Homo sapiens: one gene and its partner. The protein of the gene in region 1 purifies or fractionates together with the protein of each later gene. This does not show direct contact. Each region holds a gene or a part of one and is shown in the gene's direction. Other genes may lie near its edges.

Region 1 (3,500 bases):
CTATGTAAGGTGGGAGCATAGTAGATGACGAAGACAAGAAAGGCTCAAGAGTTTTTAGTACGATTAGCTGAGCCCCAAAGTGGATGAACTTCCAGAGATGTTGAAAAAGTACCAGTCTTGAAATGATAGGATTAACTAACCTTATTTCCTTCATGCTAATTCCTCCTTTAAGGCTCAGGTACATAGCACCTAATACATACCTGTATCACTGTACTCACTGTCATATCTGATTAGCTTATCTGTTTCCCCTCATAGACCTGAACTTCTTGGGAGAACAAATGAATGAAAGGTTCACTGGATTTGTTTGTTTAAATAAAATAAGCTCTGTTGGGACCCTAGTATTTAACCATTTTATCTTAATGCCTATTATATATTATAGACACTTGCTAGATGTTTGTTGCATTAAACATGAAAAACTGCATAATAAAACATATTATTTCTTACAACTTGTTTCTCTTTACTACTCCATATTCCTATAAGTACCACTTTTCCTTAATATCAATTTCCACCATTAGCTATTAAGATTTTCTTCCTCTCCAGAGATATGCCATCAAATTTATGAGCATGTCCTGGAATCTTTTTAAATGGAGATGCAATGTTCCGTCTCACTCGGATTAATTTCATTTTTAATCTGTACTTTGAAATTTATTGTCCTCATTTTGGTGATTGTCTTTCTGAATATTTTACTGACTCAGATTAATCTCAACTTTCTAGGCTGGCCTTAATGTTGTCACTTGCATGGATAGGGTAGCTTCCTGGATGTCAATATTTCATTTTAGGAATAAGAAATAATAGTGATTTAGTATAGGTAAATTCCATCTCATAGCAAAATAAATGTTTTTATTTAAGGTCAATAATCCATTTACGCTGAAAGCATTATGATTTTTTTGTTTGTTTGTTTGAATGTGACCTCTAATTCAACTTTTAGACAGTTATTACAGACATGTTCCCACTCATTGGCCAAAATCAGTTTTTGTGGATGACTTTAAATCATAATTTGTTTTGGGGAAATAGACATTGTAAGCTCAAATCTTCCATAAGCTGGCTAAGTACTTGGCATGCATTCCTTTACCATAACTCAGATTCAGGAAACAGAAGTTAACATTGGTTGAGCATTCTATGTGAGTCAAGCCCAGTGCTGATCCGATTATAAGAAAATATTACTATACCTAATTTATTCTCCTTAATGATCTCATAATTTTAGGTACTAATTATTTCTACTTTTAAGATAAAGAAAAGGAGGCTTAGAGAAATTAAGTAACCTGTCCATGTGTAGCCAGTAAGTGGCAAAGCCAGGATTCAAACCCTGGTTTTGGGGAGCTTTCATCATCTTTCATTGCACCACACTGCTTTGGTGTTCCCATTTGTCATGAAATGAAAAGAATTCATGTCAAAATACTGAAAACTAGTCACAGAGTTTATGTCTTCTCAGAAAAAAAGACCACATAGCAATTCAAGAAACTGTTTTCTATATTATTAAGTTCTAGCTAAGGGCTACTGCTTCAGTGAAGCCTTCTCCACTCTGATCCACACCATCTTTTCTTTTTCTGAATTTCTACCAGGCTTTTCATTTGCTTCCCTCTGTTAGTACATGATAGTATCTCATCTCTTTGTTCTCTTATGTGTGTTTTGCTTTCCTTAAAAGCCCGTCATTTTCCCAAGGCACTTGATTTATGCTTCTTTTATGTCCATTTTAAAGCTTAGCCCAGAACTAGGATCATAGCATAACTGGAATCAACGTTCCATCTGTGTTGAATTAAAAGGGATTCACATGCAAAGAAAATATAATGTTTTAAAAAATCAAAACATTAAACCCATAATCATACAATCTTTTAAGTGCATAATGTTTTTGATGGTGATGAGGACTGCTATTCTTTGCAAATTTTGATAACATTTTTCAAACACCTTGCTTTTTTTCATTAAACCATTGGTTAACTCACTGGGAAGCACCATGAAAGGGGGGTTAGAAATGGTTGGGCTGGAATATCAGCACTGCCATTTAATGGCTAGATGTCCTCGAGCAAGTTATTTTGCCTCTCTGATCCTCAATTTCTTCAAGTTGTAGGATAAAGATAATTATAACACTTAGTTCATGAGATTTAATGTGATAATATGTGTAAGGTATCCCGAATAGTACTTGGTGATTGACTGGTACTTAGTAAAATGTATATTCCCTTTCTTCCATGAATATCTCAAAATCTATTCTTATTTTTTCCAACTTACAGGTAAGAGAAATAAGGAATTTGCAGGATATAACTAAGGTGTGAGCAGATTGATATTACTGAGCAGGGTGCTCGACATATGCTCATGCCTTTATCCCAACTATATCCTCTGCTGTACCTTGAACCTGACCTTGTGCCCACTTTCATTCAGTTGCTGAAGCTTTTCATAGCGAAGCTCAAATGCTAAACTTTCCTTTACCCTTCCACTTGAAGCACTATCTCTTCTGCCTTCCTCTCAGACTATGTTATCTCTCTGTTCAATGTCTCTCTCACAACATGTATCACGTTCCATTGGTATAGATTTCACCGTTGTCTCATTTCATCCAAGTACAAGTTCCAAGCCTTCCTCCTGCACATGTAAACTGTATTCTGGACTTCAAGGACCCCCACCTTCTGTTTGGGGAGCACGTGAATGACTGGCATCAACTCTAAAGAAATGTGTCCACATGGCTCAGTTTAGAAAGGCTCAACAAATCCTTGGGGCCCCAGCAGGCATGCCTTCTTCTGAATGATCAAAAGTAACTATGTAAGGAACTTTTAAAGAAACACATCAGACAATGATGAGAAAAGCCAATGGGTGTCCTCAGCGCATGCAACATGGGGCGCCCTACAGGTTTTAGAGTGGCTTCCACTTTTTCTCTGTTGCTGGTGAACGGTGAGGCTTGGCAGAACCTTAATACCAACTCCATTCCCTTTTGCATTGTCCCCTTGGGCCGTATAACTAATTCTCTGACCACACCACATTCCTGTGAGGGTAAGCTCCATATACCTAGCCTAGGTGACCTTCATCCTGCATTCATCCCTCGTGAGTTCTTTTTCTTTTTTTCCAGATCACTATTGAAGCATAAACTCTATTTTAATCTGTCAGGGTCTTCCCTTTTGATTCTCAAGAACCTCAGCCAAACATTTCTTCCTGAAAATCAAAAGCTTTTGCTTTCAATTATTGTGTCTGATGTGGGCTTCAAGAGCTTATTTTGAAGTTGAAAAAAAATTAACGTGTTTTATTCTTTCTCTCTGCTTTAAAAATCCTGCTTCTCTGAGAATTATTTTGTGGATACCTGTGAGTGAGAAAATGGTTACATATAAAGAAGTACAGAGAGGGAAAGTACCAAGGTTGCTATTTCAGTATAATATATTTGACATGACTTTGTATTATTAGTATTTGCATACATCACTTCACTTCTAAAAATTGTAAACTCCTTCAAGTCATAGGTTGAATCTTATGTTTCTGTATATCCTTTCAAAGCACCCAGCCTTTTGGTTTTCATAGAGTAAGCA
Region 2 (4,150 bases), on another chromosome or scaffold:
GCCTGGGCGACAGAGCGAGACTCAGCCTCAAAAAATAAAATAAAATAAAATAAAATAAAGACAGTGAGAAAATGTGGTCAGGAGGGCTGAGACTGGGAACCAAGACTGCTGTATTTGCCTTGCTTTGTTGTCAAAAGCTCTTAGAGCTCCCATTTTCTACCCCCATTAACAGGCCTGAAGGGTGGTGCGGTGGCTCACGCCTGTAACCTCAGCACTTTAGGAGGCTGAGGCAAGTGGATTGCTTGAGCCCAGGAGTTCAAGACCAGCCTGGGCAACATAGCGAGACCCTGTCTCTGTGGGAAATTTAAAAATTAGCCAGGTGTGGTGGTGCGCACCTGTAGTCCCAACTACTAAGGAGGCTGAGGCAGAAGGATTGTCTGAGCCCAGGAATTCAAGGCTGCAGTGAGCTATGATTGTGCCACTACACTCCAGCCTGAACAACAGATTGAGACCTTACCTCAGTAAAATAAAATAAAATTTAAATTTTAAAAATGTAAGAAAAAAAGGAGGCCTGGCACTACTTCTAGGATGCCCCAAATTTAGGCAACTCTCACAGTCCCTTGAAAGAGAAGTGGCAGCTGGGTATAGGCCCTCCCAAGTGTCATGCCCCCTGACAGTCCTGATGGACTCTGCCCTGTGTAAGATTGCATCACCACCACCACCACCTCTCTGGGCTTCCCCAGACATCACAGGAACACGTTCCCCGCCCCAACCCCCGCCGGCTCTGGCCCTCCTCCACATCATGCTCCACATCATGCTCCAGGCCAACTGGACTCTGGGCGGCCAGCACAGGCAGGGTCAGGGGGTGACTTCTGTGCCTCGTGGCACTGCCACCTGGGCCTGAGCAAGAGGGCTCCATTCTCCTACCCGCCCAAACCCTCATCCCTGTCCTAGCCCCAGTGCTAGAAATAAAGAGACCAGAATTTTCCTTCTGGCCTAAGGGCCCCAGAGGAATACCCACTGGAACTCACAGCTGCCTCATGGAAACTGCTGCAGCAGTGGTGAAGCTAGAAAGACTAGAGGTATGAGGGAAAATTGCCCTTCCCCACCTGGCTCATAAGGCGTTCCCTCCCCCAAGTCCCAGACCTTGGGGACTGAGCATGTGAAATCATCCTCTTTCTTGCATCATGCGTGTCCACATTGCACCCCCCCACCCCCATACCCCTACTTCAGGCCCAGTCACCATGGCCAGATGGTGAAACCTGAGCTGATGGGGAGGAGGACCTCCACCCCCTGCAGGGGCCTGATGGGCAGCACAGCTGGCCAATCCTGGGACTCAGAGGGTAGGTCGGCTGGCTGACCACTAGGTTTGGAAGACCCAGGCAGCTGGCTCTAAAGAGGCCCCAGGTCAGTAGCCAGACATGAGCTGTGAGGGTCAAGCACAGCTATCCATCAGATGATCTACTTTCAGCCTTCCTGAGTCCCAGACAATAGAAGACAGGTGGCTGTACCCTTGGCCAAGGGTAGGTGTGGCAGTGGTGTCTGCTGTCACTGTGCCCTCATTGGCCCCCAGCAATCAGACTCAACAGACGGAGCAACTGCCATCCGAGGCTCCTGAACCAGGGCCATTCACCAGGAGCATGCGGCTCCCTGATGTCCAGCTCTGGCTGGTGCTGCTGTGGGCACTGGTGCGAGCACAGGGGACAGGGTCTGTGTGTCCCTCCTGTGGGGGCTCCAAACTGGCACCCCAAGCAGAACGAGCTCTGGTGCTGGAGCTAGCCAAGCAGCAAATCCTGGATGGGTTGCACCTGACCAGTCGTCCCAGAATAACTCATCCTCCACCCCAGGCAGCGCTGACCAGAGCCCTCCGGAGACTACAGCCAGGGAGTGTGGCTCCAGGGAATGGGGAGGAGGTCATCAGCTTTGCTACTGTCACAGGTGGGTGAGGGAGAGAGCAACAGGCAAAGAGCAGACAGGGAAAGGGAGGCAGAAGGGGAGCCTGGCAGGAGCAGCAGAGGGAGTGGGGTGTGGCAGGAGAAGGAGGAGCTGGGGCAGGGACTGGTTGCAGAGGACACAAAGCAGTCTCTACTTTTCTAGAGGTAGGTTCGAGGGAGAGCAGTGGGCAGGGCTTGGGGAGTCTCAGAGGAGAGCTTCATCTCTACTCACATTTTCTTTCCCTTTTCTGTCTTTCGGGCAGACTCCACTTCAGCCTACAGCTCCCTGCTCACTTTTCACCTGTCCACTCCTCGGTCCCACCACCTGTACCATGCCCGCCTGTGGCTGCACGTGCTCCCCACCCTTCCTGGCACTCTTTGCTTGAGGATCTTCCGATGGGGACCAAGGAGGAGGCGCCAAGGGTCCCGCACTCTCCTGGCTGAGCACCACATCACCAACCTGGGCTGGCATACCTTAACTCTGCCCTCTAGTGGCTTGAGGGGTGAGAAGTCTGGTGTCCTGAAACTGCAACTAGACTGCAGACCCCTAGAAGGCAACAGCACAGTTACTGGACAACCGAGGCGGCTCTTGGACACAGCAGGACACCAGCAGCCCTTCCTAGAGCTTAAGATCCGAGCCAATGAGCCTGGAGCAGGCCGGGCCAGGAGGAGGACCCCCACCTGTGAGCCTGCGACCCCCTTATGTTGCAGGCGAGACCATTACGTAGACTTCCAGGAACTGGGATGGCGGGACTGGATACTGCAGCCCGAGGGGTACCAGCTGAATTACTGCAGTGGGCAGTGCCCTCCCCACCTGGCTGGCAGCCCAGGCATTGCTGCCTCTTTCCATTCTGCCGTCTTCAGCCTCCTCAAAGCCAACAATCCTTGGCCTGCCAGTACCTCCTGTTGTGTCCCTACTGCCCGAAGGCCCCTCTCTCTCCTCTACCTGGATCATAATGGCAATGTGGTCAAGACGGATGTGCCAGATATGGTGGTGGAGGCCTGTGGCTGCAGCTAGCAAGAGGACCTGGGGCTTTGGAGTGAAGAGACCAAGATGAAGTTTCCCAGGCACAGGGCATCTGTGACTGGAGGCATCAGATTCCTGATCCACACCCCAACCCAACAACCACCTGGCAATATGACTCACTTGACCCCTATGGGACCCAAATGGGCACTTTCTTGTCTGAGACTCTGGCTTATTCCAGGTTGGCTGATGTGTTGGGAGATGGGTAAAGCGTTTCTTCTAAAGGGGTCTACCCAGAAAGCATGATTTCCTGCCCTAAGTCCTGTGAGAAGATGTCAGGGACTAGGGAGGGAGGGAGGGAAGGCAGAGAAAAATTACTTAGCCTCTCCCAAGATGAGAAAGTCCTCAAGTGAGGGGAGGAGGAAGCAGATAGATGGTCCAGCAGGCTTGAAGCAGGGTAAGCAGGCTGGCCCAGGGTAAGGGCTGTTGAGGTACCTTAAGGGAAGGTCAAGAGGGAGATGGGCAAGGCGCTGAGGGAGGATGCTTAGGGGACCCCCAGAAACAGGAGTCAGGAAAATGAGGCACTAAGCCTAAGAAGTTCCCTGGTTTTTCCCAGGGGACAGGACCCACTGGGAGACAAGCATTTATACTTTCTTTCTTCTTTTTTATTTTTTTGAGATCGAGTCTCGCTCTGTCACCAGGCTGGAGTGCAGTGACACGATCTTGGCTCACTGCAACCTCCGTCTCCTGGGTTCAAGTGATTCTTCTGCCTCAGCCTCCCGAGCAGCTGGGATTACAGGCGCCCACTAATTTTTGTATTCTTAGTAGAAACGAGGTTTCAACATGTTGGCCAGGATGGTCTCAATCTCTTGACCTCTTGATCCACCCGACTTGGCCTCCCGAAGTGATGAGATTATAGGCGTGAGCCACCGCGCCTGGCTTATACTTTCTTAATAAAAAGGAGAAAGAAAATCAACAAATGTGAGTCATAAAGAAGGGTTAGGGTGATGGTCCAGAGCAACAGTTCTTCAAGTGTACTCTGTAGGCTTCTGGGAGGTCCCTTTTCAGGGGTGTCCACAAAGTCAAAGCTATTTTCATAATAATACTAACATGTTATTTGCCTTTTGAATTCTCATTATCTTAAAATTGTATTGTGGAGTTTTCCAGAGGCCGTGTGACATGTGATTACATCATCTTTCTGACATCATTGTTAATGGAATGTGTGCTTGTATGGTCTTGTGTTACAGTCTTTTTCAGTTTTAATTTCTAATGTGGTGAATTGATAGATGTAAATCATATGAACAAAAGCTCA

The links. Proteins that work in one complex are often made in the same cells at the same time.
Region 2: the proteins of COLEC10 (region 1) and INHBE purify together in Homo sapiens (affinity purification with mass spectrometry; 3 studies listed by BioGRID and IntAct, with this or other methods). This does not show direct contact.

The regions. Positions count from the first base shown.
Region 1 is NC_000008.11:119,098,247-119,101,746, forward strand, and holds part of COLEC10 (collectin-10 isoform 1 precursor), read left to right. Parts: intron 1-3,500. UniProt on the Homo sapiens protein: Lectin that binds to various sugars: galactose > mannose = fucose > N-acetylglucosamine > N-acetylgalactosamine. Acts as a chemoattractant, probably involved in the regulation of cell migration.
Region 2 is NC_000012.12:57,453,957-57,458,106, forward strand, and holds INHBE (inhibin beta E chain preproprotein), read left to right. Parts: upstream 1-1,350; 5' UTR 1,351-1,580; coding exon 1,581-1,878; intron 1,879-2,137; coding exon 2,138-2,892; 3' UTR 2,893-4,069; downstream 4,070-4,150. UniProt on the Homo sapiens protein: Inhibins and activins inhibit and activate, respectively, the secretion of follitropin by the pituitary gland.